4 separate regions of the Homo sapiens genome follow, and regions 1, 2 and 3 are each linked to region 4. Evidence: fine-mapped expression QTL. A gene starts in region 4. Each other region holds a variant in brackets. All regions are shown on one strand. Distances are between the middles of the regions. Region 1 has its middle 27 kb from the start of CIT. Region 2 holds the start of MIR4498 (microRNA 4498). Region 3 overlaps GCN1 (GCN1 activator of EIF2AK4). Region 4 holds the start of GCN1 (GCN1 activator of EIF2AK4).

Region 1 (8,104 bases), 290 kb before region 4:
ACCCAGGTTCAAGTGATTCTCCTGCCTCAGCCTCCCAAGTAGCTGGGATTACAGACACATGGCACCACACCTGGCTAACTTTTGTTTTTTGTTTGTTTGTTTTGTTTGTTTGTTTGTTTTGAGACGGAGTCTCTCTCTGTCGCCCAGGCTGGAGTGCAGTGGCACGATCTTGGCTCACTGCAAGCTCCGCCTCCCAGGTTCACGCCCATTCTCCTGCCTCAGCCTCCTGAGTAGCTGGGACTACAGGTGCCGGCCTAATTTTTTGTGTTTTTAGTAGAGACGGGGTTTCACCATGTTAGCCAGGATAGTCTCGATCTCCTGACCTCGTGATCCACCCGCCTCAGCCTCCCAAAGTGCTGGGATTACAGGCGTGAGCCACCGCGCCGGGCCTGTATTTTTTTTTTCAGTAGAGACGGAGTTTCACCATGTTGGCCAGCTATTTATTTATTTTTATTGTGGTAAAATATACACAGCATAATTTTTTCATTTAACTATTCTTTATTTTTTTACTTTTATTTTTGAGACGGAGTCTCGCTCTGTCACCCAGGCTGGAGTGCAGTGGCGCGACCTCGGCTCACTGCAACCTCCGCCTCCCGGGTTCAAGCGATTCTCCTGCCTCAGCCTCCCGAGTGGCTGGGATTACAGGCCGGCGCCACCACACCCAGCTAATTTTTGTATTTTTTGTATAGACATTAGTTTTGCCAGGCTGGTCTGGAACTCTGACTTCAGATGATCTGCCAGCCTCGGCCTCCCAAAGTGCTGGGATTACAGGCGTGAGCCACTGTGCCTGGCCTATTTAACTATTCTTTAGCATACAGTTCAGTAGCATTAAGTACATTCATAACGTGCAATGAATCATGATCACTGCCTATTTTCAGAACTTTGTCATCATCCCAAACAAACTCTGTACCTATTAAACTACATCTTTTCATTTTCCCTCGGCAACATCCGTTCTGCTTTCTGTTTTTTTGTTGTTGTTGTTGTTGTTTTTGTTTGTTTTTTAAACTGAGTCTCCCTCTCACTCTGTCACCCAGGATGGAGTGCAATGTCACAATCTTGGCTCACTGCAACCTGTAACTCCTGGGTTCAAGTGATTCTCCTGCCTCAGCCTCCCAAGTAGCTGGGATTATAGGCGTGCACCAGCACCCCTGGCTAATTTTTGTATTTTTAGTAGAGACAGGGTTTCACCATGTTGGCCAGGCTGGTCTCGAACTCCTGACCTCAAGTGATCTGCCCGCCTCGGCCTCCCAAAGTGCTGAGATTACAGTCGTGAGCCACCGCACCCAGCCTCTGCTTTCTTAACCTCTATTCTACTTTCTGTATCTATGAATTTGCCCATTTTAGGCACCTCATATAAGTGGAATGATATCATACAGCAGCCCTTCGTGCCTGGCTGATTTCGCTTAGCATGTTTTCAAGGTTCATCCATGTTGTAACATGTATTAGGACTTCATTCCATGTATGACTGAATAATATTCCATTGCATGTATATGCCACATGTTGTTTATCCATTCATCTGTTCATAAACACGTGGGTTGCTTCTGTTTTCTGAAAGAATGTTGGTGTACAAATATCTGAGTCCCTGCTTTCCATTCTTTGGGGTATATTTACATACGTAGGAGTGGATCATACGTCACTTCTGTTTCCTTTTTGAAGAACCACCAAACTGTTTCTCAAAGTGGCTGCACCATTTGAAATTCCCACCACTAACGAATCAGGGCTTCAAATTCTCCACACTCTAACCAACACTTAAATTATTTTCCATTTTATATATATATAAAACAATAAATATAAATAATATATAATATAATTACATTATATAATAATATATTATAAATTATATATTTTATATATTATAAATAATATATATTTTTCCATTTAATATCTATATTATATTATATATAATAGCCATCCTAATAGGGATGAAGTGGCATTTCATTGTGTCTTTTTAATTTCCTTGTTTAGCAATGTAAATTTTTCCTATGGAATGTAAGCAATTTTCTAGATCACATTCATTCCACACTACCTAATGAGCACCTGTACTTCTCTTCCAAATAGCCTTTTTAGAGTCCTGCCCTGGAAATTACTTCCGTTAGTTGCTTCCTTATCTTTAAACCATCTAAAGCACCATTGCTTGGTTTAGCATTTTACCTCCTCGAAGCAGAAGCGCTATCTAGTGGCCCAATAGAGTAGCTGCAGGGGCAGCCCCCATTTTCACTAGTGCCTGTCTTAGTAACAAGGTCCTTGATATGCTTTATCTGGTGCTGCTGATCTGGCAGTGCCATGAAAGTCGACATCCAAGTCTGACTCAGAGAGGGATGTCTCTACAAAGATGAGATAGATGGGCTTTCGCCCCAAATGACAATGTCTTCTCTGGTCTTAATTGCACCATTCCTAAAACAGGGATGATAGAAATACAGTTGACATTGTAAAAGCAACTGGTTAAATATTATGTCCAAAAAAACCCCCAATTTATTATTTTTCCAGTCTCTTCCTTCAACCATTCTCTATGGAACCTTCCTTTTCCACCCTTAAGAGACATCCCTAGCAAACGCTGTGGCTTTCATGTCCTCAACTTTCCCAAAGTGCCCCCACCCCACCCCCTTTATTTGAGATACGATCTTGCTCTGTTGCCCAAGTTGGAATGCAGCAGTGTGATCACAGCTCACTGCAGCCTCGACCTCCCAAAGCTCAAACAATTCTCTCCTCTCAGCCTCCCGAGTAGCTGGGACTACAGGCACACGCCACCACTCCTAGCTAATTTTTAAATATTTTTTGTAGAGGTGGGATCTCCCTTTGTTATCCAGGCTGATCTAGAACTCCTGGGTTCAAGCGATCCTCCTGCCTTGGCCTCCCAAAGTGCTGGGATTACAGGCATGAGCCATTGCCCCAGCCCCAAAGGCTCTGATAGTGTGTCTGATGCATCATCTCCTACTCCCCTCCCCGATAAGCCCAGCTTTGGAGTGGGGGGAAAGAATGATCTGTGGGGAGTGGTCTGCTCTCACATGCTTGCCCCACCCTCCTTCGTTCAAAGCTCCTCTGATGCTTGGGGCAGAGACTAGAAATAAAGGAAAAGGGCCACACCTTGTACAATTTTCTGACATAGGAAATGGACTCTTGCTTGGACTTTTCCAATTACCCTTCTCTCAGCTAAGCTCCAGGGAGTCCACTTAATTCATTCTTGTCCCACCCAACATCAGGAGTTCAAGCTTTCTCATTTCGCCTCCTCTCTCTGTCTCTCTACCCCTGTACCCCAACCATCTGCCTCCCGTTTTTCTCCCTTTCCTCAGAGATTACACGTATAAGAAAAAGGAGTATCACTCTTAGAAAAGGAGATCACAGCCCGGGAAGGCTGAGGCAGGAGGATTGCCTGAGTCCAGGAGTTGGAGACCAGCCTGTGCAACAAAGTGAGACCATCTACCCGACCCCACCTTCTCTACAAAAAAATTAAGAATTAGCCAGGTGGGGTGGCGTGCACTTGTAGACCAGGCATTCCAAATGATAGCCCAATATAAGATGAATGCACATACACACAAAATCAATAGCTTTCCATTACACTAGTAACAACCATTGAGCTAATGTTAAAGAGAAATTATTCTCCTCCAGTAACAACAAACTATCCAGTTCCTAGAAATCAACACAATAAGAAAAGGGCAAGGGGTTCATAAAGAAAACCGCAAAGCTTGACTACAGACTTACAAACAAGGCCTGAGTAAGAAAAGACAGGGATGATCTGTTCCTAAATAAGAAGTGCCAATGTTGTAAGATTCCTTTTCTTCCCAATTTAACATAAAAAGGAAAAGCAGAATAAATAAATGGTGGTGTATCCATACAGTGCAGTTCTACTCAACATTAAGAAGGTATGTGCGGCCAGGCACGGTGGCTCATGCCTGTAATCCTAGCACTTTGGGAGGCCAAGGCAGGCGGATCACCCGAGATTAGGAGTTCGAGACCAGCCTGGCCAACATGGTGAAGCCCCATCTCTACTAAAAATACAAAAATTAGCTGGGCGTGGTGGTGCACGCCTGTAATCCTAGCTACTCAGGAGGCTGAGGCAGAAGAATCACATAAACCCTGGAGGTGCAGATTGCAGTGAGCTAAGATCGTGCCACTGTACTCCAGCCTGGGTGACAGAGTGAGACTCTGTCTCAAAAAAAAAAAAAAAAAAAGAAGGTATGTACTATTGATACAAACAATACAATAAATGAAAATAAGTGAATCTCAAAACCATTAGGCTGAGTGAAAGAAGCCAGATTCAGAAGAGAGCACAAAACCGAAGGCAGTGGCTCATGCTTGTAATCCCACCACTTTGGGAGGCCAAGGCAGGAGGATTGCTTGAGCCCAGGAGTTTGAGACTAGCATGGGCAATATTGTGAGACCCC[G/A]TATCTACAAAAAATAAAATAAAAATTAGCTGGGCATGGTGGCATGCACTTGTAGTCCCAGCTACTCGGGAGGCTGAGATAGGAGGATCCCTTGGGCCTGGGAGGTTGAGGTTGCAGTAAGCTATGATCACACCACTGCACTCCAGCCTGAGTACCAAAGTGAGACTCTGTCTCAAAAAAACAACAGCAACAAACAACAAAAGAATACATGCTGTATGATTGCATTTATATAAAATTCTAGAGAGGGGAAAAAATGACGGCAGCTAGAGTTGGGGATGAAGGTAAGGATTAATTGCAAAAGGATCTCCAGGGGTCTAACAAGAATGTTCTATAGCTTAATTGCATTGGCGGTGACATGGCGTATACATTTGTCAAAACTCATCTAAATATAGCCCTAAAATGGTGCATTTTATTGTATGTAAATTATGGCTCAATAAAGTGGGAAAAAATAAAATGTAATTCAAATTGAAATGTGGGCAGGCATAGTTGCTCATGCCTGTAATCCCAGCACTTTGGGAGGCTGAGGTGGGCAGATCACCTGGGGTCAGGAGTTCGAGACCAGCCTGACCAACATGCAGAAACCCCATCTCTACTAAAAAATACAAAAATTACTTGGGCATGGTAGCTCATGCCTGTAGTCCCAGCTACTCAGGAGGTGGAGGCATGAGAATCGCTTGAACCCGGGAGCTGGAGGTTGCAGTGAGCCAAGATCGTACCACTGCACTCCAGCCTGGGCAACAGAGTGAGACACTATCTCAATTAAAAAAAAAAAAAATGGCCAGGCTCAGTGGCTCAAGCCTGTAATCCCAGCACTTAGGGAGGCCCAGGCGGGCAGATCACGAGGTCAGGAGTTCAAGACCAGCCTGACCAACATGATGAAACCCCGTCTCTGCTACAAATACAAAAATTAGCCAGGCATGGTGGCGTGTGCGTACAATCCCAGCTATGCAGGAGGCTGAGGCAGGAGAATTGCTTGAAGGAGGCAGAGGGTGCAGTGAGCTGAGATCATGCCACTGCACTCCAGCCTGGGTGACAGAGCGAGACTCCATCTCAAAAAAAAAAAAAAAAGAAAAGAAAAGAAAAAATTGAAATGCAATTCAAAAAAAAAATTCCAGGCTGGACGTGGTGGCTCATGTCTGTAATCCTAGCACTTTGGGAGGCCAAGGTGGGTGGATCACTTTAGGTCAGGAGTTCATGGCCAGCCTGGCCAACATGAAGAAACCCTATCTCTGCTAAAAAATACAAAAACTAGCCAGGTGTGGTGGTCCGTGCCTGTAGTCCAAGCTACTTGGGTGGCTGAGGTGGGAGAATCACTTGAGCCTGAGAGGCAGAGAGAGTGAACGGAGATAGCACCATTGCACTCCAACCTGGGCAATAGAGCAAGATTCTGTCTCAAAAACAAAAATAAAAAGAATTCCAACTTCAGGGTTTCAGGGAGAGGTATGGCAGAGACATGAGAACTGAAAATGAAATTCTTCAGGAAGAATAAATGCATGAGAACAGACAAGAAAAACACCGTGAGCCCAGAGAGTCCATCGACAATTCTGCAGCCCAAGTAGGCAGCCACTCTGGCCACCCTAGGAATGAGATGCCTTTGGTTCTCGCTTCTGCCAGGTGCCCTCCAACTCAAAGAACAGCTTCTAGCTCACGCTTGTAATCCCAGCACTTTGGGAGGCTGAGGAGAGTGGATGACCTGAGGTCAGGAGTTCGAGACCAGCCTGGCCAACATGGTGAAACCTCATCTCTACTAAAAATACAAAATTAGCCGGGCATGGTGGCTCACTCTTGTAATCCCAGCTACTCAGGAGGCTGAGGTGGGAGAATCACTTGAACCCCGGTGGCAGAGGTTGCAGTGAACCAAGATCACGCCACTGCACCCTAGCCTGCGTGACAGAGTGAGACCCTGTCTCAAAAAAACAAAAACAAAAACAGAAAAAAAAAAAGTAAAAAAAACATACATCCCTAAGTTGTTTTTCAAAAACCCAGACCCCTACCAAATGGCATCCAGGGGCGCACAGACCTCAGATGAGGGGAGACTGATGACCGACCTCTGACCACCATTCTTTGTTCTAAATTTGTTCCTGAAGGGCCTGGAGGAAGCCAGGAGCTAACGTTCTTTTCTGCTGACCCCAAATTTTTAAACAAAGCTTCTCTTCCTTAACCAACTGCAAATCAGAAAATCTTTGAATCCACCTATAACCTGGGGGCCCCACTTCAAGGTATCCTGCCTTTTTAGGCCAAAAACCAAGGTGTACCCTCCATGTATTGATTTACAATTTTGCCTATAACTCTGCTTTCTTAAAATTTACCCCTGCTTTTAAAAACCATCAGGGAGGTCAGGACGTAAGCATTAGCTGCCCAATTCTCCTTGCTTGGCACCCTGCATATAAATACCTTCCCTTCTCCTGCTGCAAACCTCCATGTGGATATCTGGCCTTACCGTGCCAGGCGAGCAGAACTCAGTTCGGTTTAACACCTTCCCTCCCCCAATACACAGGCTGGGATGCAGGATGGGATAGAGTGAGGCTGTGGATAGCGAAGTAGTTTGGTTACTTTTTTTTTTTTCTGAGACTAAGTCTCACTCTGTAGCCCAGGCTGGTGTGCAATGGCTCAATCTTGGCTCACTGTAACCTCCACCTCCTGGGTTCAAGCGATTCTCCTGCCTAGCATCTCAAGTAGCTGGGATTACAGGTGCATGCCACCACACCCAGCTAATTTTTTTGTATTTTTAGAAGAGACGGGGTTTCGCCATGTTGGCCAGGCTGGTCTTGAACTCCTGACCTCAAGTGATCTGCCCGCCTCGGCCTCCCAAAATGCTAGAATTATAGGCATGAGCCACCATGCCCAGCCTATTTGGTTACTTCTTAATAGAAGAGGGGACTCCAGTTATTTTCTTCTTTCTTTGGACCATGGAGTCCATGAAGCTTTTTTATCAGCTTTTGAGCCCTGGCTGCCTCCTCCAGAGTTGTTCTGTGACAAAAGGCAAGAAAAAGGATCAAACTCCTTTGGCATGCACCTTATATCATGGAGGTCTTCAAGAATATATTATTTCATGGCATAAAAACATGGACCAGCTGCAGTGGCTCACACCTGTAATCCCAGTGCTTTGGGGGGCCCAGGCGGGAGGATCACTTGAGCCAGGGAGTTTGAGACCACCTTGAGCAACACAGCAAGACCCTATCTCTACAAAAAAAAAAAAAAAATTTTTTTAATTAGCTAGGCCTAGTGGTACACACCTGTAGTCTAAGGTATTCATGAGGCTGAGTCAGGAGGATCGCATGCGCATGAACCCAGGAGTTTAAGGCTGCAGTGAGCTATGATCATGCCACTGCACTCCAGCCTGGGTGACACAGCGAGACCTTGTCTGTAAAACAAAAACAAAGTTAAATAGGCCAGGCATGGTGGTTCATGCCTGTGATCTCAGCACTTTGGGAGGCCAAGGCAGGTCAATCACCTGAGGTCAGGAGTTCGAGAACAGCCTGGCCAACGTGGTGAAACCCCATCTCTACCAAAAATACAAAAATTTGCCGGGCATGCTGGTGGGTGTCTGTAATCCCAGCTACTCGGGGAGCTGAGGCAGGAGAATCGCTTGAACCTTGGAGGGGGAGGTTGCAGTGAGCCGAGATCGCACCACTGCACTCCAGCCTGGGCAACAGGGTGAGATCCTGTCTCAAAAAAAAAAAGGCAAAATAAATTCTAAAAATTTAAAAGCAGAAATGTGT
Region 2 (8,104 bases), 42 kb before region 4:
AGTAGCTGGGACTACAGGCATGCACCACCACACTTGGCCTATTTTTTTTTTTTTTGGTAGAGGTAGGGTCTTGCTATATTGCCCAGGCTGGTCTAAATTCCTGCCCTCAAGAGATTCTCCTGCCTAAGGTTATTTTCAAAAAGAGCTTTCCTGGGGGGGGAAAACTTTAAAGCCAAAGAGGAGCTTTAGAGCTTTAGGATATCCTGACTTAGGGTTGTGGCTCTTGTCAGAGACCTGTTTCTTGGCATGAAAGCACATAAACTATAGAAAGATCCAACTGCCAGAGGGAGAGCTGGCCAGGCGTGGTGACTCACACCTGCAATCCCAGTGCTTTGGGAGGCCAAGGCAGGAGGGTCACTTGAACCCAGGAATTCAAGGCCAGTCTGGGCAACATAGCGAGACTCCATCATTACAAAAAAAAATACAAAAATTAGCCAGGTGTAGTGGCATGCTCCTGTGAGAATGGTTTGAGCCCCAAAGGTAAAGACCAGCCTGGGTGATAGAGCAAGACTCCATCTCAAATTTTTAAAAAGGCAGAGTCTTAACCCTATCCCTGGTCTGGGGAGCTCACAGGACAAGAGCTGTGGCTACCCAGGATCCTTGCTGAGGCTGGTTTTCATAACAGGAAGCTGGGAAGAGAGGCAGAGCGAGTGGTCTTACCAGCTTTGGTCCGCCACGATTCCTCCTCCAGGGCAGCCAGTAAGGAGGGGAGCACCAGCTTCACCCCGTGAGCACTCAAGTTGCTCATCACAGCCTTGGCACAGTCATCTGCAGCCTCAAGGGGGGAGAAAACACATTCAGGGGCCTCCTCACCCAAGCAAGGGGCAAGGCCTGACACCAGTCCTAGCGTTCCTCCTATAACCAACGCTTACTGGGGTTCTATTATGTCAGACCCTGTGCCAAGGCCTGCAGACACAGCTGGGAACACATCTCATAAAGTTTCCATGCTGTTCTCCCGAGCAGTCCGGGGACTTACCTCACGCACATACTGGTTTCCATCCCCAAAGCACAGGAGCAGATGGGGCAGCACGTGAACCACATACGGCTCAAAAAGTTTCCCCAGCATGGTGCAGAGCATCTCGAAGGCAAAGAGGGCTCCTAGGGGAAAAGAAGGTGGGACGGCTGGGAAGAGAATGTCCCCTGGGGGTAGCCACAGAGAACAGAAGGGACAGCAACCTCCCTGCCACCTCCCACCCCTCTGGAAACACTCAGAAACAGCTGTGGAACTAGTAGATGCCCCATGAGGAGGCAGCACCCTCTGCCTCAGCTCAAGAAGCCCCAGCAAAGGAATGTGGCTGAGCGAAAGGGAGGACAGCACAGGGGAGCCACCTTCACTTCTTGGCACTAACAGTTAAAAAAGCCAAACCTTGGCCGGGCGCGGTGGCTCACACCCATAATCCCAACACTTTGGGAGGCTGAGGCAGGCAGATCACGAGGTCAGGAAATAGAGACCATCTTGGCCAACATGGTGAAACCCTGTCTCTACTAAAAATACAAAAATTAGCTGGGTATGGTGGTGGGCACCTGTAACCCCAGCTACTAGGGTGGCTGAGGTAGGAGAATTGCTTGAACCCAGGAGGTGAAGATTGCAGTGAGCCGAGATTGTGCCTGGAGACAGAGTGGGACTCCATCTCAAAAAAAAAAGAAAGAAAGAAAGAAAGAAAAGCCAAACCTCTCTCAGCTAAGGGTGTTGCTGAGTTAGAAATTTGTGGCCGGGCGCGGTGGTTCATGCCTGTAATCCCAGCACTTTGGGAGGCTGAGGCGGACAGATCACGAGGTCAGGAGATCGAGACCATCCTGGCTAACACGGTGAAACCCCGCCTCTACTAAAAATACAAAAAATTAGCCGGGCGTGGTGGCGGGCGCCTGTGGTCCCAGCTACTTGGGAGGCTAAGGCAGGAGAATGGCATGAACCCAGGAGGCTGAGCTTGCAGTGAGCCAAGATCACGCCACTGCACTCTAGCCTGGGCGACAGAGCGAGACTCCGTCTCAAAAAAAAAAAACAGAAAAGAAAAAAAAATTTGCAAGTCCAAGGAAAGCAGCAAGGACGCAGCTGGACTGGGTCGCACACAGCGGGGCCCTCTGTAGTACACGCACAAGCAACGGCCTCCACCTGGGGCGCCACGGTCAGATTCCTTCCTCTGGCAACCTGGGGACCAACTTCCCATGCTGGGCAGCCCCAAGCTCAGAGATGCTCACCCTCTCGCCGGCGGAAGTTCTTCTTATCTTGGATGGCATCAGTCAGTGCCGCCATCATCTCCTGTTGCTTCAGCGAGAGGATGCCCAGGCCCTTCACCAGGCCCGCCAGGCCATAGGCGGCCCCTTTGCGCTCTGCGTACTTGTCTGACTCCAGCAGCTGCTGCATAAGCCTCTGGATCATCCCTCCAGCATCCTCCTTGATGGCTGGCACAAGGGGTGGCAAGCAGCTGGCTACGGACTCCTGGACCTGGGGAAGGGCCCACCTGTCAATGCTGTGGCTCCGCTGCAGCCGTTTCATGGTTGGTGGGGGGTCTGACCATTCTACACAGCACCCACCACTAGATGTCCCAAGCCCCATCTCAGCCACTGCCTGCGGATGTCACAGGGCACCAGAGAAGCAAACAGGTATACACAGTGTTGTATACCTCTGAGGGTGCACACTACAATCTGCTGACGACAAAAGCTTTGGCCCATATGGTGCCATTTCTGGTCTAAATGGAAAACCTAGGCCTGGGCAGTGGGGCAGGGGACCAAGGAAGGGACTCTAAAGACTAAATCCACTCAGAAAGAAAGCTTCCAGAGAAGTGTGCTGCTTTGCCTCCATAAAAACAGCCCGTGTCTCTGTTTCCAAACTTGTCAAAATCACAGAGAAATTGGGCAGGGCCTTATAGGACCAGGCACAAATTGAGTGGAACCAAAAGACACTCAATCCTGCCTCCCAGCCGCAGCTCACTAAGCCCAGCTTGGGAGCAGCAACCCCGAGGCCATGCTGGCAGGTGCCCAGGTGCGACTCTTTTGCTGCTTAGGCTTTCTGACACCATATTTGACCACAATTTTGGAAACTGGTTTTCAACTGTGCATTTTTTTGGTAAAGTTTTTTGTTGTTTTTTGTTTTTGTTTTTAGAAATAGGGTCTTACTCTGTCACCCAGGCTACAGTGCAGTGGCACAATCATAATTCACTATAACCTTGAATTCCTGGACTCAAGCAATCCTATTGCCTCGGTCTCCTGAGTAGCTAGGAACACAGGCATGGCCTCCACCTCTGGCTAATTTTTAAAGTTTTTGTAGAGACAGGATCTCACTATGTTGCCCAGGCTGGTCTCGAACTACTGGCCTTAAGCAATCCTCCCACCTCAGCCTCCTAAAGCACTGGGATTATAGGCATGAGCCACCACGCCCAGCCCAACTGTTCACTTTATGAAGACACTCTAAGTGGTCCAAAATGCAAACCACACACACACGCGCACACACACACACACACACACAAAATATATATATATAAATATATATATATTTATATATATATACATGCGTGTTTTTCAAAACAAAGAAAAAGAAATTTATTTGCACTGTAGCTTAGAGGCTACATTAAAACGCACCTGTAGCCTCCTAAAGCACTGGGATTATAGGCATGAGCCACCACGCCCAGCCCAACTGTTCACTTTATGAAGACACTCTAAGTGGTCCAAAATGCAAACCACACACACACGCGCACACACACACACACACACACAAAATATATATATATAAATATATATATATTTATATATACATACATGCGTGTTTTTCAAAACAAAGAAAAAGAAATTTATTTGCACTGTAGCTTAGAGGCTACATTAAAACGCACCTGTAACACACAACCAACACATGTAGAGGGCCAGAAAAAGGCTTGACATAAGAGAAAGCCTGACCTTTTATTTTTTTTCCCTTTGGATTCCCAGTGCACGTTAGTGAATAGAAAAAATGGAACTATCTAGGAGGTCTATTAGAACAAAGTAACAAAGAAACTCCCTCTCCAGGGGCATTCTTCACTATAAACCAGGTGAGTAGAAAAAAATGAAACTATCTGGGAGGTCTACTAGAACAAAGTAACAAAGAAACTCCCTCTCCAGGAGTGTTCCTGACTATAAACCAGGCTCTCCCCTGCGAGAGGGGGTGAATCCTTAACAAGAACTGGGCTTTCAGGGCCCTGATTGTCCAACTCCACCCCTAGTATCCCACCGCCTAACCACAGCCGGGTCCCAATTCTCTAACCGACATGTGGGTCCCAGGCCAGATGGCAGGTACCTGCTGGGAGGGGGTGGAGAGGGCAGCGATGAGCTTGGCAACAATGGGCTTCACTTTGGGGTCACTCTTGTCCAGGTGCTTGGCCAGAGAGCCCATCAGGACCACCACACTCTGTCGCACAGCATCATAGCTGGCATCATTGGGCGCGTTCTTCAGGAACTCCTCGAATACTGGCAACAGCGAGTTGACGTTCTCCTGGAAAGCCAAACCCCTCAGAGCCTCAGGTCAACCCTA[C/T]AGGCTGCATCTGGGGACAACAGTCCCTGCCCTGAGGACCAAGACCAAGTCTAGCTCTGGGACAGGCATCCTGACATGCCAGCCAGTGGCTCTTCCAGTTTTCTGGCAGGACTGCCACAGACTTAAAAGAATTTAACACACTATCATGGTCTTTTTGGCTCAAAGTGCTCTGCCAGGACTCTTGGCACTCAGCATTTCTGGCCCCTGCTCAGCCCTAGCGCCTGCCTCCCGTGTCTCCTTAGCGGGCTGGGACCCCCTTACCTTCCCGTGGGTGTTCCCTGGCTGGGACCCCCTTACCTTCCCATGAGTGTTGAGCGTTGCGAGGGCTGCATCCAACATGCACTTCCGGACATCTGGGTGTCGGTCATTGAGGGCATCAGGGACAAAAAACTGAAAGAGTGGCTTCACCTGAGAGCTGTCCAAATACTGGGAGAGCTTGTTGAGGGCCAACGCCAAGCCACACCTGGGAAAGAAGTGGGAGCACATCAGGAGGGGCAGTCAGGGGGCCTCCTCTGCCAGTGGAACCTCTGCTGGTGCACGGCAAGGAGAGGGAGCTTGCCTGAGGCAAACACTGTTTTGGGGGCAGAGAACAGCCTGAAGCCCACCACCCAGTGCTCACCCAATGTTCTGGAACAACCCACTTGTCATATGGAGACTTGCCATCTGCCCTGATTTTACCTCCTACTGGGTGACCAGCCCTGTGTTGGTTTCCCCAGAGAGGAATGTGAGTGCAATGCTCACCCCTCTACCTGCAAAGCAGGTTGTAAGAGAACACAGAGGTAAAAGAACCAGATGTAGAGGCCTGTGGAAGTGAACACATTCTCCAAGGGCAAAGTGTTGTTACTCTTTCCAGTCATGGAGCAAAGAATCTGTGTCCTATCCCTGGCTGATGGTCTGGAATGAAAAATAAGCCAGGATGGGCCCATACACCACCCTACACTGACACACAAGGCCTCACGGGAGTGGACACGGCCAGGATGAGCCATTCAGAGAACTAACACCCTTGCGTGTTTTGAGCCTGCTCTGTGGGAGGCAAGTGTCTTTCAATGTCCCAGTTGCTCCCAGACATCTGTCTAATCCTCCAACTGCTACTCATGGGCTCTGTGGAGAAAGGCTGGTAGCTTCTGTTATTGTGCCCTGCATATAGATGAGGAAACAGAGGCCTGGGGAAAAGGAGAAACACGCTCACGGTCACGCAGCTAGTGCAGGAGAGGACACTCTAAGGAACTTACTTAGAGTTCATTTTAATTGATTTAACTTTAGCCACATGCGGTTAGTGGCTACATCTTGGACAGTACAGCCTAGAGAGAGGTGAGGAGGCAGGTCAGAGGCTCTTCTGAAAGATGGTGCCTCACACGGTCCAATCCCACCCCTTCCAGGGGCTGATGGAACTCAGGCCTCCCCGACTCTGAGGGAGGTCCTGCTCTTTCATTAACCCATGCTGCCTCCTCACAGCACCCACCCAGCCAACCTGCCACATCTCACAAAGCTTGGAGTAGAACGAGGCTGAACAATTGTTATACCTGGCTTCCCACTGATCTGGAGGAGATTCTGAAATAACTCGTCCCAAAGCATCCAGCACTGGGGGCGGCCGCTGCAACAGACAAGTTGGTAAATGCTTTGCAACGGGCAGATCAATGACCTGGGCACCAGGATTGTGAGGCAGGAAACTAGCCGCAGCTACCCTGAGCCACCGTGAGCCCCGAGATTCCTGTCTGGAGCAGTAGCGGGGTGAGCAGAGACCCACCCAACCGCACACACCCAGACTGCATCAGGGCTGCACAGGTCACTCACGTAGAGCTTTTCCTGGTAAATCTCCATGAGCCTGCCCATAACCTCCGCCGCCTGCCGCTGGTAACGTGCCACTGCTTGGGAGAGGGCTTCGGCCCCTGCCTGCCTTACAGCCGCCTCATGATAGATCACGTCGTCAATCAGCAAGGAGCAGAGGTCTGGCTGCAGGTCTAGGCCCATCATTGACCAGAGCCTGTGGGAGATCCAAGGCAGGGGCTGCTTAGACAAAGATCTGCAGCACTTGCCCTGCCAGCCCAGCCCTTCTTCCCACTGGAGGCTGAGCACACTGGGTTCAGTTATTTCCTAAAGGAAGAGAGGATGCAGCAGGAGAAAGCGACATGCTGGCTCTCTCACCTCTCAGCCAGCTTCCGGATCTCCTCCTCCTTGTCAAACTTGACCACCCAGAGTCTCCGCAGAAGGTTCAGGCCATTCTTCTCATCAGTATCAGGTGCTGGCAATACCATGTGGAGTTCCATCAGCCCCTGGAAGGGGTGGGATTGGACCGTGTGAGGCATCATCTTTCAGAAGAGCCTCTGACCTGCCTCCTCACCTCTCTCTAGGTTGTACTGTCCAAGATGTAGCCACTAACCGCATGTGGCTAAAGTTAAATCAATTAAAATTAACTCTAAGTAAGTTCCTTAGAGTGTGAGGTGGTAAAATGTTTTTTTAATGTGAAAATTAAAACGTTAAATAAACCAGACAGATAAAAACCTCAGAAAAAGCGTATTCCTTTTGTTCAAAAAAATTTTAAGGAAAAATTTACTATATTGTCATCATTTTCACATTTTACCAAAAGCCAGTGAAAACTCTGTCACATATCAATAGCAGGAGGCTGTGGATCAGCAGGTAGGAACCACTGTCTTACCACTACAAGGGGATGCTTCAGTTTTTGGTCCAAAAGCCATGAAGAAAAACCAAGTACATGGCAGTGGGCTAAAGAATTGAACTCCTCCTGCAAGTTAGCTCTGTCCGTGGAAGTACCAAGGTCCACATTCCAGTTTAAAAATTAAGTGAAGTGTTCCAAGGTAAAGGAAAAAATACAGTGATACATCATGACTGCTTAGTGTTCTGATTCTCAGAGAGACCCCAACCATGTGACTTCTTCTCTTTGCCTCTAGGCCTCCCACCAGAGTGAGGGACATTCTCTCAAATGCCCATCATGCAATTTGCACTTGCATAGAGTGACAAGGGACACTGCAGTGGCTCTGAGACTGAGCACACACCCGGAGCACGGTTTCCCGCACGCTGGCACACGGGGACTGCAAGGCACAGAGCAGCACGTCCACCTCCTCCTGCTCTGCAAAGGCACAGCCATCATCACCACTGCTGCTGGCACACAGGGTGGTCAGGGTGTCTGAAGCCAGAACCTAAGGAGAACATCAATCCACTGGTTCAGTCAGCAACTCATTTACTACTAGGGGGCCAGAGAGGGATATGCACTGAGAACACCCACCCCTACAGCACTGCAAGGGCTAAGACCCCAGCTCCAGTGGCAGGACCCAAGCAAAACCCCTCACTAGCTAACAACAGTCAGGCTGGCTCTCTAAAGCAGTCTTTCTACCAAAGTCCAAAAGTAAGGGCTGAAAGGAAACTAGGACTCCACCCTTTACACTGGGACTTGAGGTCTGGGTCACGAACTGAGTCACAGCAACAGCCAACTGAAAACCACATCACCTGTAAGCGAGGCGAGCCCGTCCCGATCACCCAAGTCAGAAGACGCAGCATGGCCACGCGAGGCAGCAACTCCGGGCCATTCTAGGAGAGAACGGCAGGTAAGTCGAGATGAGGCTGTGGGGAGGTCTGTAACCCAGG
Region 3 (8,104 bases), 27 kb before region 4:
ATGTGAAAAAAAGTCTCTGAAAAGGAAAAGGAATCCTATGAAAGATGTTACTGGAGCTTGACGGCAGAGCAGAAGATGCTGGCATCACACAGATTAAGAAAGAACACCCAGGGAGTGGCCCAGCCAAAACCCCACATCGTAAGCAGGGGCAGCTAAGTGGATCCAAGAGCCCCAGTTCTAGAGCCCAGATGCCCTCACCTTGTGAGAACTGAGGACAGTCTTCAGCTCCTCCAAGAGTCCGTGCGCCAGCTTAAAGCCCCCAAGAGAGGACAGCAGCTTCCGAACTGTCTGCTGAGCCTGCCTGCGGACGTGCCAGGTGCGGCTCAGGAGCACCGCCACCAGAGCCCGGTGGTACTGCCTGCAAGCACAGGGACAGACAGGTCTGGGGGAAGGCCAAGAGCAGGGCTTTCCACAGCCAACCCTTCCACCTGCCACACACCCTTTCTCGGGTTCCTGCCAGCCTTTGCCTCATTTGGCCCAAAAGAAAAGGTAAGCCAGCCTCACGTACTGAACTTTGTTGCCAGTGAGTCTATGCGGGTGGTCAAGGAAAAGTCTCTCTGTCAGATGCAACACAGTACACAGGGCTTGGAGGGAAGAAAAGGAATGGAAGTGTTTTTAAAATAGTTAAGTGTACACATACATACCAATACCCAGAAATAACTGGAATGAACTGAAAATTAACACCAAAATATAAATGTGATTATCACTCGAAGTGAAATTACAGCTTGTTTTTTTTTTTTTGCTTATGCACACATGTATTTTGGAATCAGTAAAGTATATACTATTTTTATTTATTTTATATATAATATACACACATATACACATATATACACATATATATACATATACATATATACACATATATACACACACACACACACACACACACACACACACACATATATATATATATATTTTTTTTTTTGAGAGACAGTCACGCTCTGTCGCCCAGGCTGGAGTGCAGTGGCACGATCTCAGGGCTTACTGCAAGCTCCGCCTCCCAGGTTCACACCATTCTCCTGCCTCGGCCTCTCGAGTAGCTGGGACGACAGGCACCCGCTAATTTTTTTATATTTTTTAGTAGAGACTGGGTTTCACCATGTTAGCCAGGATGGTCTCGATCTCCTGGCCTCGTGATCCACCTGCCTCAGCCTCCCTAAGTGTTGGGATTACAGGCGTGAGCCACTGCACCAGGCCAAATTTTGTATTTTTAGTAGAGACGGGGTTTCACCAGGTTGGCCAGGTTGGACTTGAACTCCTGACCACAGGTGATCCACCTGCCTCGGTCTCCCAAAGTGCTAGGATTACAGGCGTGAGCCACCGCACCTAGCCTATTTTTACTTTTTTTGAGACAGAGTCTCGCTATGTTGCCCAGGCTACAGTGCAGTGGTGCAGTCTTGGCTCACTACACCCTCCGCCTCCCAGGTTCAACTAATTCTCCTGCCTCAGCCTCCTGAGTAGCTGGGATTACAGAAGCCCACCAGCAAGCCTGGCTAATTTTTTTTTTTCTATTTTTAGTAGAGACGAGGTTTCACCATGTTGGCCAGGATAATTCTGAACTCCTGACCTCAAGTGATCAGTCCACTTCAGCCTCTCAAGGTGCTAGGATTACAGGCATGAGCCACCATGCCAGGCCTATGTATTTTGTTTTCGTTGTTGTTGTTGTTGTTTTGAGACGGAGTCTTGCTCTGTCACCCAGGCTGGAATACAATGGTGCAATCTCGGCTTACTGCAACCTCCGCCTCTTGGGTTCAAGAGATTCTCCTGCCTCAGCCTCCCGAGTAGCTGGGATTACAGGCACCTGCTACCACGCCCAGCTTATTTTTGTATTTTTATTAGAGACAGGGTTTCACCATGTTGGCCAGGATAGTCTCGATCTCGACCTCATGATCTGCCCGCCTCGGCCTCCCAAAGTGCTGGGATTACAGGCGTGAGCCACCGTGTCCGGCCCCAGCCTATTTTTTTTTAATAATTAAAAATTACGGCCAGGCACAGTGGCTCACGCCTGTAATCCCAGCACTCTGGGAGGCCAAAGCAGGCAGGTCACCTGAAGTCAGGAGTTCGAGACCAGCCTGGCCAACATAGTAAAACCCCGTCTGTACTAAAAATACAAAAATTAGCCAGGTGTGGTGGTGTGCACCTGTAGTCCCAGCTACTCAAAGAGGCTGAGGCAGGAGAATTGCTTGAACCCGGGAGGTGGAGGTTGCAATGAGCAGAGATTGCACCACTGCACTCCAGCCTGGGCAACAGAGTGAGACTGTCTCAAAAAAAAAAAAAAAAAAAAATGCCTGATCCGGTGGCTCACGCATGTAATCCCAGCACTTTGGGAGGCCAAGGTGGGCGGATCATGAGGTCAGGAGACCAAGACCAGCCTGGCTAACACTGTGAAACCCCATCTCTTCTAAAAATACAAAAAATTAGCCAGGCGTGGCGGCATGCACCTGTAGTCCCAGCTACTCAGGAGGCTGAGGCAGGAGAATGGCGTGAACCCGGGAGGCGGAGCTTGCAGTGAGCTGAGATCGCGCCACTGCACTCCAGCCTGGGCGACAGAGCGAGACTCTGTCTCAAAAAAAAAAAAAAAAAATTACTAAGGCCAGGCACGATGGCTCATGTCTGTAACACCAACACTTTTGGAGGCTGAGGCAGGAGAATTGCTTAAGCCCAGGAGTTCAAGGTCAGCCTGGGCAACATGGTGAAACCCCCGTCTCTTAAAAAAAAATACAAAAATTAGCCAGATGTGGTGGTGTGCACCTGTAGTCCCAGCTACTCAGGAAGCTGAGGTGGGAGGACCACCTGAGACCAGGGAGGTCGAGGCTGCAGTGAGCCATGACTGTGTCACTGCACTCCAGCCTGGGCAACAGAGTGAGATCCTGTCTCAACAACAACAACAACAACAAATTACTATGGAGTTATAAAAAGAGGCCGGGCATGGTGGCTCATGCCTGTAATCCCAGCACTTTGGGAGGCCGAGGCAGGTGGATCACCTGAGGTCGGGAGTTCGAGACCAGCCTGACCAACATGGAGAAACCCCATCTCTACTAAGAAAAAAAAAAACAAAAACAAAATTAGCCTGGTGGTAGTGGCACATGCCTGTAATCCCAGCTACTCAGGAGGCTGAGGCAAGAGAACCGCTTGAACCCAGGGGGAGAGGTTGCGGTGGGCTGAGATCATGCCACTGCACTCCAGCCTGAGCAATAAGAACGAAACTCCATCTCAAAAAAAAAAAAAAAAAAAAGAATGATGAAGTTCATTATATACTGATATGGACTCATTTCCAGGTCTAGAAAGCACAGTACATACGGCAGGCACACTACCATTTGTGTAAAAAAGGTACAGAACAAACATATACAGGTATTTACTTGCATATATATAAAATATCAAGGCTACAGAAGAAGCTAATAAAATTGGTTATCTATAGCCGAGGAACTGGGTAGCCAGAGATCAAAGCAGGGGTATAATTTTCAATGTAGACCCTCTTGTATCTATTTTTGAATTACATTAGTCTATTTCCTTTTCAAAATTTAGCTAAAAATTTTTCTAAAACCAGGAAATGACTAACAGTTGTAGCTCATTAATGGGATGTTGCGATTTATGAGTCAAACGACTCTTCAAATCACCAATTAGTGGCAGACACTCCTAAGGCAACGTAGAATATTAAACACATATTTAAAATTCAACTGTTCCTTTTCTGCCAGGATAGAAACCAGTAGTTTTTGTGTCTCTTGGTGGGGGAGTAGAGCCTGCCAGACTCCACAAGAGCTTCTCAGCTGCCTTAACACAAGAAAACCTCCGAGACAGCACCAATTACCCAATCAGCTATAATTACAGCTCATGTCGTAGCTCCACAGCCATTACTGCTCTGTCTCCACACATCTCCCAAGTCCCATTTCCCTAACCTTATGTTCCCTACAGGAATGAATTTATTCCCACAACAGCTAAGCTGTTGGCCAGATCACTCTGGCCCAGGTTTTTGCAGACCTGACTGGTTGGTCAAGAAAGGGTCCTCTCTGAAGATTTTCCAAAGAGACTTTGCCTCAATCCCGAGTTCAACTAAGCATGGAGTAACTTACCATCCTCTGAAGCCATGACCAGGAATTTCTCAGAAGTGAAAACCTGCTTTTTCTCATCCACAATCAACTGCCAGAAACTGCTCAGTTTGGCCTCTGCAAGAAACAAAAGGTTACCCCACGACGCAGCTCACCACATCCCCCAGAGCTGATC[T/C]ACTCCATCCTGAAGCTGCTGGGGTGGGCTTTGCTGACAAACCCTCCTCTGCAGCAGGAGGCTCAGTGCTCTTCCATTTGGGGAACTGACCTCAGTCCTTCTGGTATCACCTCCTGTACGAAACTCTTCGGTGGCTCTCTGCTGCCTACAGGATCCTAGGTGAACTGCTTCTCATCCGGAATTCCCATCCACCCCAGGCGCCAAGCTGGAATACCTGAGGTTTACAGACTCTGGCTTTCCCTGCCCTTCCCTGACTGGGGCTGTTTGGACTCACACTGGGCCATCCCTTCAGGATAATGAAATCCTTCAGAGGCTTCAGGGTACCAGTTCAAATGCTTCCTCCATGAAGCCCTTCCCAATACCCACCCCCCCAACTAAAAGCAATCTCTCCTTCAAAACTGCTCTAATGCCGCATTTTGTCTTAAGCTACGGATATATTTCTGTATTTCCTCGCGCCTACTGTGAAGTAAGCACCCTGAAATTTGCTGAAGAAGGTCATGTTCATCTTAGCATTCCCCCAGGTAGCCCAGTGCCTTGCATGGCCACAGTGAGCACACGATATTACATGAGGAGAGCTGAGCTCCATTCCTAACCAAAGGAGTTAAGTTCAGGTGTGTCCCAGTGCAGAGATTGGGAGATGAAATAAAGAAAGCCTGGCCGGGCGCAGTGGCTCACGCCTGTAATCCCAGCACATTGGGAGGCTGAGGTGGGTGGATCACAAGGTGAGGAGATTGAGACCATCCTGGCTAACACGATGAAACCCTGTCTCTACTAAAAATATAAAAAATTAGCCGCGCGTGGCGGCGTAGCGCCTGTAGTCCCAGCCACTCGGAAGGCTGAGGCAGGAGGCGGAGCTTGCAGTGAGTCGAGATCGCGCCACTGCACTCCAGCCTGGGCGACAGAGCGAAACTCCGTCTCAAAAAAAAAAAAAAAAAAAGAAAAAAAAAAAAGAAAAGAAAGCCTGAAATACGATGTAGCCACAAAAAATAATGAGAAAGCTCTTTCTGATGTACTGATTTGGAATCATTTCGAAGATATATTATATATAGTATATATATTATATATTATAAGTAATATGGCATATAGCGTATGTTCCCCAGCATGTTCAATTACATAACACACTATGTCTGGACATAAAATTGGTAATACTGTTTTTTCTTTCTTAGACAAAGTCTCACTGTGCCACCCAGGCTGGAGTGCAGTGGAGCAATCCCAGCTCACTGCAACCTACGCCTCCTGGGTTCAAGCGATTCTCCTGCCTCAGCCTCCCGAGTAGCTGAGATTACAGGCATGCGCCACCACACCCAGCTAATTTTTGTACTTTTAGTAAAGACGGGGTTTCACCATGTTGGCCAGAATGGTCTCGAAATCTTGACTTCGTGATCCGCCTGCCTCGGCCTCCCAAAGTGCAAAATTGGTAACACCGTTTACAGAGGGAAACTTAACGGCTACGGGAAAAGACAGGGCTAAGGGGAAGCTTCTCATGTTATATCCTTTTGAATTTTGTACTGTATGAATGTATAACCAACTGAAACAAACAGTCCCAATACTAAACCCTGGTCCATCTAGGTATCATCTACAAGCCTGTGTAGCACTGGAGCAACAGAATGAAGGAGGACAGTGACACAGTCCCCTGACTGCATTCCCACTGCCCATGCAACCATGAGGTTCATCCTGCAGATGACAAGCAAACCTGTGGCTGATCCAGTGTGGTCAGGACCAAGCTAATCCTGAACATCAAGACACACCTCCCAAGGACTCTTGTCAGAGGCCCCTGTCTCTACCATCCTAGACACCTCTGGACTCATACCAGCCTGTGAGTCAGCCACTGACAACTTTAAGAGCAACAAGGCTGCGGCAACCCCTTCAGTGATGGTGGGAACCTGAGTGCTTTGGGAGGCTGCCTTCTCCACTGTCTGGATGAGCAAGGGCAGTAAGTCCAGGGCCTGCAACAGCGTGTCACCTGTGGAGAGAGGACAAGCACCTTAAAGGACATCCTGATCCTTGGAAATGACAGGACTGAGAAAGGATTTATCTAACCAGCTGTGAACCAGACGACTAAAACCCTTCAGTTAATTTTTCAAATATCTCAAAAAGAAGTGAAGTGAAATCAAAACTTAAATCAAACTCTACAGCCACAAAATTAGAGGGAGAAAGATAATCCTTATGGCCAGGTGCGGTAGCTCACGTCTGTAATCCCAGCACTTTGGGAGGCCGAGGCGGGTGGATCACCTGAGGCTGGGAGTTCGAGATCAGCCTGACCAACATGGAGAAACCCCGTCTCTATTAAAAATACAAAATTAGCTGGGCGTGGTCCAGTTATTCAATTGATGGATAAGCAGAGACATTAGGTGTGTTGCTCAAGGTCACACGGCTAGTTGAGGCAAGTCAGAGCCACCCTCAATCCTGTCAATTCCCATCTGGTACTCTTCCCCCATACAGATGACCTTCGGACCCAAATTCTAAATTTGGGTCCAAATCTGCTGACCTCTGAACTAAACTCTTTTAAAAAAAAAAGGAAGCCAAGCACAGTGGCTCATGCCTGTAATCCCAGCACTTTGGCAGGCTGAGGCGGGGGGGATCATGAGGTCAGGAATTCCAGACCAGCCTGACCAATATGGTGAAACCCTGTCTTAGCCGGGTGGGGTGGTGCACGCCTGTAATCCCAGCTACTCAGGAGGCTGCAGCAGGAGAATCGCTTGAACCCAGGAGGCGGAGGTTGCAGTGAGCCGAGATTGTGCCATTGCACTCCAGCCTGGGTGACAGAACGAGACCCCATCTCCAAAAAAAAAAAAAAAAAGAGAAACCAGTTAAAACTATAGTTTGGCTGGGCACGGTGGCTCATGCCTATAATCCCAACACTCTGGGAGGCTGAGGCGAGCAGATCACCCGAGGTCAGGAGTTCAAGACCAGCCTGGCCAACATGGCAAAACCCTGTCTCTATTAAAAAATACAAAAATTAGCCAGGCATGGTGGTGGGCATCTGTAATCCCAGCTACTCAGGAGGCTGAGGTTGGAGAATCGCTTAAACCCAGGAGGCGGAGGTTTCAGTGAGCTGAGATCGCACCACTACACTACAGCCTGGGTGACAGAGAGAAACTCCATCTCAAAAAAAAAACTATAGCTCAAGCACATGTTTTCTTCCCCCCTACCCCAACACCTTGGTTTGTTGTTCCATGTTTCCATAGCTACTAAATGGGTACATCAGAACATTTCACAATGAAAGCAGTTTCCCAGATAATGTTTTATACTTGAATCCAAGAAATCTTTATTACAGAGGTTTATTTTCGTTTTGTTTTTAAAAGGTTTATTTTATATTATGTTTATTTTAAAAGCAATGAGCATTGAGTTCTGGCACTCTGCATTCCTTTTTTAAAAAATAAATTAAAAATAAATGCAACGAGCAGAACTAGCTCAAGCTGAAGAGACTAGGTAAAACCAAGTTTTTGCCATCTACAATTCAAAGTCCCACCTACAACTGATGGTCATTCAATGCAGCAATAATGCAAACTGATATATATAGTACATAGACTTTTTATATAATTTTTGGTAGAGACAGAGTCTTGCTATGTTTCCCTGCCTGATCTTGAACTCCTGGGCTCAAGCAATCCCGCTGCCTCAGCCACCTGTGTAGCTGGGACCACAGGCATGTACCACCATGCCCAGCTATTTTTTTAATTTTTTTGTAGAGATGGGGGTCTCACTTTGTTGCCCAGGCTGGTCTCAAACTCCTGGGCTCAAGCAATCCTCCCACCTCAGCCTCCCAAAGTGTTGGGATTACAGGCGTGAGCCAGCTCGCCTGCCTCATAGACTGTTTTTAAGTCATGGATGTGAGTTCACTATATCCCTAAGGCAGCTGAAAATGTATTGAGCGTACATTTCT
Region 4 (8,104 bases):
TGGTACGTGCCAACTATGTTCCCTTTACATTATCTCACTTTAACCTCCCCATAAAGGGAATGTCAGCATCCTGGCAACTCACTGGCAGAGGATAAGCACACTGGCTAAAGGGGGAAAGGTTAGGAGATTGGATCCCAGCTCTGCCTTTTACTAGCTGTAGAAACTTAGTCAAATAATGTCACTCCCCCAATCTTCAGTTTTCTCATCTATAAGATGCGGACAATAGCAGCTACCTCATATGACTGTTATGGAGCTTAAATGAGATTGCGTATAAGGTGCATCTACTCTCATCCCAAGCAAAAAGTTGGCTACTACTACCAAAAAGCCTGCAAGGGAGGCATCAGTATCCCCATTTTATAGGCGATGAAGAAACCATCTCCAAGAGAGGAAGTCACTGCTCAGAGTGGGGTCGAGAGCCACAGCACCTGCGTTTTTGAAACTAACTTTGAAACCAAACAGGTCTATAAACTGATGCTAACAAATCTTTAGCTTTCAACAGCCATCGAGTTACCACAGCTGCAGTCCCCTGCATAGGGACATAAGCATAAGACCCAGTGATGGGGGGCAGTTTGCAAACATCCCTGAAAATCTGCTCTTGAGCAATATTCTACAAGCTACCAAGTGGACAGGTTGTGGATTCATAAGCCGTAGAGCAGGGCATGATAAGGCTCATGTAACTTAACACAGTGGGGTTATCATGTTTTTCTTTTGAGGGTATTTCAAAGGCAGGCCTTATCAGTAGCGTAAGAGTCAAGCGTACACACAGAAATAAAATAATGCTGAGTTTTTCGTGCTTAAATCCCTGCCATAATTCTATTGGCAATGAATAAAAGAAACTGATGTCCAAAACTGTCTTCTACATAAATAATGTAGTTTTAACTTTAAAATGTCTTTTGTTTTTATAGTCATAGATGCACACAGAGTCAAAACCAAAGAGTTCTGAGAAGTCTGCCATAAAAACCAGTCCCTTGCCCTCACTCTCCATGGGCAACCCTTAGGTTGATCTGGTGGATATTTGGGTAGTTACCTCCATATATCTAAGTATCTCTAAATATGGAGGTAACTTGCATGTGCTTCTTGATTTTTCAGTTTTGCTACCTTTCCACCACAGCTCCCTTTCCTGCTGTGACCCCATCGCACACCCTCCCCATTTCCCCAGTGGAAGTCCCCAGTTTCACATACAGGCTAGGTCAGTAGTCAGTGATTACATTATATGTAAATGGCATTCAACATCCATTTAATAAACTCTGATTCTTCCCAGCTTTTTTATGCCCCTGGTGTTAATAATTACCCTTTCCCACCTCACTTCAGTTTGACTTGTTTTATCTGTTCTTATAAATAATTAAAACCCAAACTTTTTGCCATTTGTCTAAATCTCAGTACATTTAGGGAGATCAGGTATTCCATCAAATTCCACCTTCCTAAGGAAATCTCTCCCAGAGTTTTCTGACCTGCCCCAATTAGGCATGTGATCCTCTACAGCTGGGGCACAGTTTATCACCCTGAACATGTACTTTCTTGTGTTTGGGTGAAGCACAGCCTCCATTTTGTAAACTCCTTGCAAGTATGAAAATGTTCTGGCCAAATACAGAATTCTAGGTTGAAATCATTTTCCTTTAGAATACTGAAGACAAGGCTGGGTGCAGTGGCTCACGCCTGTAATCCCAGCACTTTGGGAGGCCAAGGCAGGCAGATCACAAGGTCAGGAGATCGAGACCATCCTGGCCAACATGGTGAAACCGCGTCTCTACTAAAAATACAAAAAAAAAAATTAGCTGGGCGTGGTGCCGGGTGCCTGTAATCCCAGCTACTTGGGAGGCTGAGGCAGAAGAATCGCTTGAACCCGGGAGGCAGAGGTTGTAGTGAGCCAAGATTGTGCCACTGCACTCTAGCCTGGGCGACAGAGCGAGACTCCGTCTCGAAAAAAAAAAAAAAAGAATACTGAAGACAAGGCCGGGCATGGTGGTTCACGCCTGTAATCCCAGCACTTTGGGAGACAGAGGCGGACAGATTGCTTGAGGTCAGAAGTTCGAGACCAGCCTACCCAACATGGTGAAACCCTGTCTCTACAAAAACTAGCCGGGCATGGTGGCGCATGCCTGTAATCCCAGCTACTCGGGAAGCTGAGGCAGGAGAATTGCTTGAACCTGGGAGGCAGAGGTTGCAGTGAGTTCAGATCGTGCCATTGCACTCCAGCCTGGGCAACAAGAGAGAAACTCCGTCTCAAAAAATAAAATAAAATAATAAAAAATAATTTCAGGCCAGGTGCGGTGGCTCACGCCTGTAATCCCAGCACTTTGGGAGGCCAAGGCAGAAGGATCACCTGAGGTCAGGAATTCGAGACCAGCCTGGCCAACATGGAGAAACCCCATCTCTACTAAAAATACAAAAATTATAAAATACAGAAATATTCTCCTGCACCACCCAATACGGTAGCCACTGGCTACATGTGGCTAACTGTGCACTGAAATGTGGCTGGTACAAGTGAAGAACTAAATTTTTTTTTTTTTTGAGACAGAGTCCCACTCTTGTTGCTCAGGCTGGAGCGCAGTGGTGCGATCTCAGCTCACTGCAACCTCTGCCTCCCAGGTTCAAGCGATTCTCATGCCTCAGCCTCCTGAGTAGCTGGAATTACAGACATGCCACCATACCCGGTTAATTTTTTGCATTTTTAGTAGAGACGGGGTTTTGCCACGTTGGTCAGACTAGTCTCAAACTCCTGACCTCAACTGATCCACCCGCCTTGGCCTCCCAAAGTGCTGGGATTACAGGGTGAGCCACCACGCCCAGCCAAACAATGAATTTTTTTATTTAATTTAATTTTAACAAACTTAAGCCATGTGGCTGCCATACTGGACATTGCAGCTCTAGAGATTTTTCCCTCAAGTGAGTATCAATGTTAAACATTCAGCATGTATTCCCCTAACCCTCTCATACTAAGCTTTTCTTTCTAGTATTCAGTACAACATAACTTGAACATCAGCCACCTGCATAGGAGTCTCAGTAAATGTCTTTTTGAATGCTTAAGTGGTCATTTTCTGGGCCTACACATAAAAATCAATCCCATCACCCTGGAGACACCAAATCAGCCCAGCTGTCCTTAGACACCTGTTCTTCCCCTGCCTCATGACAATGTCTTTTCACCTTAAAACATAACAACTGGGTGGAGGAAAAGGTTTTCCCAGGTCCTTCCTGAACTACAAGGTACCCATAGGTAACACTCTTCCTGGACAGGACAGTTCTTTTCACTAACCCTGGATCTGATAACAACCAACATATATCAAGCCGTATTTTATCTCACTGAACCTTCACAACAACCTTTTAAGATAAGTATTGTTTTAACTTCATTTTATAGATGAAAAGGCAGACTTGGCGGGGTTAAGTCACTTGTTTGGCATGTCACAGAAATCGACGAGCAGGAACTCAAGCCCAGATCTGTATGAATCCAAAGACTACACTCAAAGTCCCTGCTCATAGTAGGTGCTCAAAGAATATTTGCTGAATACAAAGTTTAAGGAAGACTTGGCGTTGGCCCGGGGCTCACAGCCGGAGGGCTTTGGAGAAAAGAAGTAGAGGCTCGGTAAAGTGAACTTCTGCAACTCTGGGGTCGGGCAAAGGCCCCGCCGAGCTCCAGCTGCTGAAGTCGAGGCGGGAGCCCCGGACTCCTCGAGCCCGCGGTCTGCCTGCGCCGCCCGGGCCGGGCCAAGCCCGCAGCCCTGAGAGTCCAGCCTGAGACGGCCCCGAGACTACGACCTCCACAGCCACCACCTCCAACGCCCCTAAGCCGAGGAGCGAGAGGGGCCCCGCCCGACGGCCACCGTCCGCACCCAGTCCCTGGCCGCGTTGGCCCCGCAGCCGCCCGCCTCACCTGCGTGTCCGCCGCCATCCTGCCGGGGCTGACTCCGGAACCGCTTCCGGAACGCTTCCGGGTCACAGCGTGGCCCACGCGGCAGGGCGAGGCCGGGAGCCAGCGGGGGCAGGGCCCCGGGCTTGGTGCCCCCGGGCAGGACGGCGGCCGCTGCAGCCCGGGCAGCCGGATCACGGGCTTAAAGTTGGCCCGCGCCCGAGCCACAAGGCCTCCTCCCCAGGGCCCGCTCTTCAGCCCCGGGCGCCTCGTGGGAGACTAGCGCTTGTAACGTGGTGAGCCCGCGGTGTAACGCTATGGGCCCGCCTTGCAGCCCCTGACCCACTTCCAGCCCGCAGGGCCAGCCCTACGTGGGCCTTTCCTGAGTGATGACTAAGTTCTTTAGAAAAACAAGTGTTGCTTCCTAGATAGCAGGAACTAAAAACTAGGTAAAAGAGTCGGTGAACTAGTCTTTTGTCCTCAGTTTGTAGTTCAGTTGGCGGATGACTTGTACAGGGTTAGCAAACGTGGCTGGATACGGAGGTCAGGGAAGGTTCAGAACTGAACGAGGCCCCTGCCCTGGGGAAATGCTGGACGCCCCAGGCTGGGAGTTTTGAAGGCCACAGGGCAAGAGGCTACGTGCAGACGTGGCTGCAATTTAGGGAACAGGGTCTCCACAGCTTAGTTGTCAGCCCTGTTAGCAGTGGCTTTCAAACCTTTGACACAGACCTAGTTAGAATGAATATATCATGTTCCAGCAGACAGATCTCTAAGTGAAATACAGGAATCACAACAAAAACACCTATTCTCAGCAGATGCTGCTTTCTCTTTAAATACTGGGGCCAGGCATGGTGGCTCACGCCTGTAATCCCAGCACTTTGGGAGGCTGAGGTGGGTAGATCAACCTGATGTTAGGATTTCCAGACCAGCCTGGTCAACATGACAAAACCTTGTCTCTACTAAAAATACCAAAAAAAAAAAAAAAAAAAAAAAAGGCCGGGTGCGGTGGCTCACCCTTGTATAATTCCAGCGCTTCGGGAGGACAGGGCGGGCAGATCACAAGGTCAGGAGTTCCAGACCAGCCTGGCCAACATAGTGAAACCCCGTCTCTACTAAAAGTACAAAAATTAGCCGAGTGGTGGCACATGCCTGTAGTCCCAGCTACTGGGGAGGCTGAGGTGGGAGAACCGCTTGAACCCGAGAGGCAGAGGTTGCAGTGAGCTGAGACCATACCATTGCACTCCAGTCTGGGTGACAGGACGAGACTGTCTCAACAACAAAAAAATTAGCCCGGTGTGGTGGCAGCCTCCGGTAATTGCAGCTACTTGGGAGGCTGAGGCAGGAGAATCACTTGAACCCAGGAGGCGGAGGTTGCAGTGAGCCAAGTCCAAGCCACTGCACCCCAGTCTCAAATATATTTGAGACTATCTCGAAAATATAAATTGGTTACCACCGAGTTGGAGCACCACCCAGTTTGAAAAACTTTACTCTAGGGGACTGGCCCCAGCATCCACCAGGTGCCTATCTCAGCTGACACTAAACCTACTCCAAGTATGCAGCAGCCATAGAAACAGTAATTCTAGTGTAATAGTTACAACTGTGTCTAGAAAACTGTATAGGATGTTTGATTGGTAGCTTCATTTAGATACCCAAACATCAACACCTAAATACAAAGCTCTGGTTTTACCATGGCTTTCGTTTCTAGCATATGGCACTATAAACCTCAAAATTAAGGGCCAGGCACATGGTGGCTCAAGCCTGTAATCCTAGCACTTTGGGAGGCTGAGGCAGGATTCCTTGAGGCCAGGAATTTGAGACCAGCTTGTGCAATATCTCTACAAAAAAAAAATTTAAAAATTAGTAGCTGAGTGTCATGGTGTGTGCCTGTAGTCCCAGCTACTTGGGAGGCTGAGATACGAGGATCCCTTGATCCCAGGAGTTCAAGGGTGCAGTGAGTTATGATTACACCACCACACTCCAGCCTGGGCAACAGCCAGACCCTGTGTCAAAAAGGAAAAAAAATTACAAAATTAAGAGTCCAGAGACTTTTTAAAGAAGTAAGCCTTTATTTCCTTGTTTTGCAAATAAAACTGGCTAAGTTGGTTGCTTTTTGGTGATTAGTCAAAGAGACCAAATCCCATATCCTCGTCCGACTCCTCCGACTCTTCCTTGGCTTCAACCTTAGCTGGGGCTGCAGCAGCAGCAGGAGCAGCTGTGGTGGCAGCAGCCACAGGGGCAGCAGCCACAAAGGCAGATGGATCAGCCAAGAAGGCCTTGACCTGAAAGGAGGGGGGAAGTGGTCAAAATGGTCATCCACACTCCTCTATTACCCACCACCCTCCTGCCTTGGTAGAGTTTAAGGACCAACAATATCAAAGTCCGTGTGAAGCCTTTCCTGTCAGAAGCAGCCCAAGCAGGACAGCTTGGGTATGGCCTAGTGAGGCAGGGTTCCTAAGGCCCAGCTCTTGCCCATTAACCCCCTCTTTGGGTCTCTTGTCATTTCTCAAGTGAGAAACGCCTTCCCTGCCTCCCAACCTCTCAAATATCCCCTCACAAAATTATCTGCTATATAAAATACAACTATAAAAGCAGTAAGGTAGAAGGCCACATCACCCTGCTAATTTGTCACAGTCAGGCCCACTGTGGTCCTGGTGGGATCCTTTTACCTTTTCAGCAAGTGGGAAGGTGTAATCCGTCTCCACAGACAAGGCCAGGACTCGTTTGTACCCGTTGATGATAGAATGGGGTACTGATGCAACAGTTGGGTAGCCAATCTGCAGACAGACACTGGCAACATTGCGGACACCCTGGGGGAGGGAAGATTTCATTTTACGTGAGATTCCCTACAGGAAAGGAAGTCCAAGTAAGGGTGAATAAAGAGAACCCTTAGCAGACAATAATTGCCAGGTTGGCAGCTCAGTCTCAAGAGAGGCCATTTCATCTCATACCAAATGCTCCTGGCAGAGCAATTCAGCCCCATCAAATAAATTTTGCCCTTATTCCAAATCCAGGTCTTCTGTATCCATTGTTGATGGCATTTACTTCCAAAGCCCCTACCACAACAGTGAAAAGCATAAACGACTAACGTAGCCATTGAGTTCCATGAACGAAAAATGTTCAACGATTTCCAGATGTGAACTTCATTCACTTGTCAAACTTTCAACAAATGAAGCTACCTAAGAGTAGCTAATAATATCTAATTATATACATTAATTTCAATTTTTCATTTGTCCAAGAAATGACATTTTCTATCACTATTATTCATTATTTAAAGGGCATTATTTTTTTTGTGAGACAGAGTCTCACTCTGTCACTCAGGCCGGAGTGCAGTGGCACCATGTCAGCTCACCGCAACCTCCACCTCTTAAAAGGCTTTTGATGGCAAAATGTGAGTCTCAATGCAGGCCCTAGAATAACAGCCCCAGCACTGTACATCCATTAATTCATTAAATCCTTTGGCCAGGCGTGGTGGCTCATGCCTGTAATCCCAGCACTTTGGGAGGCCGAGTTGGGCGGATCACGAGGTCAGGAGATCGACACCATCCTGGCTAACGCGGTGAAACCTAAAAATACAAAAAAATTAGCCGGGCGTAGTGGCGGGTGCCTGTAGTCCCAGCTACTCAGGAGGCTGAGGCAGGAGAATGGTGTGAACCCGGAGGCGGAGCTTGCAGTGAGCCGGGAGATTGTGCCACTGCACTCCAGCCTGGGCGACACAGCAAGACTCTGTCTCCAAAAAAAAAAAAAAAAAATCCTTCAACAATCTTATGTTGTTACTGACATTTTACAGATGAGGTAGGTAGACAGATGAAAACACAGTCCTTGGTTACAGGGACTCAGTCTGAACCTTGTCATGCTCTCAACCATCAGTGTAAGAGGGGGCAAGGCTGACAGCATATACCTCCAGGAAGCGAGAATGCAGAGTTTCCTCTGTGATATCAAGCACTTCAGGGTTGTAGATGCTGCCATTGTCGAACACCTGCTGGATGACCAGCCCAAAGGAGAAGGGGGAGATGTTGAGCATGTTCAGCAGCGTGGCTTCGCTGGCTCCCACTTTGTCTCCAGTCTTGATCAGCTGCACATCACTCTGAACCAGATAATAGTGGGGCAGTAAACACCTGTTGGACAACCAGCAGATCCATGGCCACTAAAAGCAGCTCCCCATTTGCCTGGTTAGCACAGGCAAACCAGGTCCACTCACCAGGATTTCAATGGTGCCCCTGGAGATTTTAGTGGTGATACCTAAAGCCTGGAAAAAGGAGG

What was found.
Region 1: its variant is fine-mapped to the expression of GCN1 in unexposed skin (GTEx, PIP 0.93).
Region 2: its variant is fine-mapped to the expression of GCN1 in whole blood (INTERVAL, PIP 0.98).
Region 3: its variant is fine-mapped to the expression of GCN1 in whole blood (TOPMed, PIP above 0.99).

The regions. Positions count from the first base shown.
Region 1 is chr12:119,900,048-119,908,151 of GRCh38, forward strand. No RefSeq gene overlaps it. Among named protein-coding and RNA genes, the nearest start is that of CIT, 27 kb to the left of the region's middle. The variant G/A (reference allele first, on the strand shown) is at 4,383.
Region 2 is chr12:120,148,946-120,157,049 of GRCh38, forward strand. It overlaps GCN1 (GCN1 activator of EIF2AK4), which reads right to left. Exons shown (of 58, transcript NM_006836.2): 27 at 7,967-8,047; 28 at 7,516-7,659; 29 at 6,647-6,774; 30 at 6,296-6,485; 31 at 6,025-6,095; 32 at 4,799-4,964; 33 at 4,268-4,462; 34 at 2,200-2,446; 35 at 977-1,098; 36 at 661-775. It overlaps MIR4498 (microRNA 4498), which reads right to left and starts at 6,554; the gene lies at 6,489-6,554. The variant C/T (reference allele first, on the strand shown) is at 4,502.
Region 3 is chr12:120,164,138-120,172,241 of GRCh38, forward strand. It overlaps GCN1 (GCN1 activator of EIF2AK4), which reads right to left. Exons shown (of 58, transcript NM_006836.2): 15 at 6,032-6,184; 16 at 4,071-4,163; 17 at 509-584; 18 at 199-358. Among named protein-coding and RNA genes, the nearest start is that of MIR4498, 13 kb to the left of the region's middle. RefSeq lists an enhancer at 2,795-2,844. The variant T/C (reference allele first, on the strand shown) is at 4,222.
Region 4 is chr12:120,190,812-120,198,915 of GRCh38, forward strand. It overlaps GCN1 (GCN1 activator of EIF2AK4), which reads right to left and starts at 3,904. Exons shown (of 58, transcript NM_006836.2): 1 at 3,869-3,904. The coding sequence starts at 3,886. It overlaps RPLP0 (ribosomal protein lateral stalk subunit P0), which reads right to left. Exons shown (of 8, transcript NM_001002.4): 5 at 8,043-8,104; 6 at 7,743-7,928; 7 at 6,511-6,651; 8 at 5,888-6,123. The coding sequence ends at 5,962. RefSeq lists a silencer at 3,612-4,201 and enhancers at 7,385-7,884, 8,004-8,104.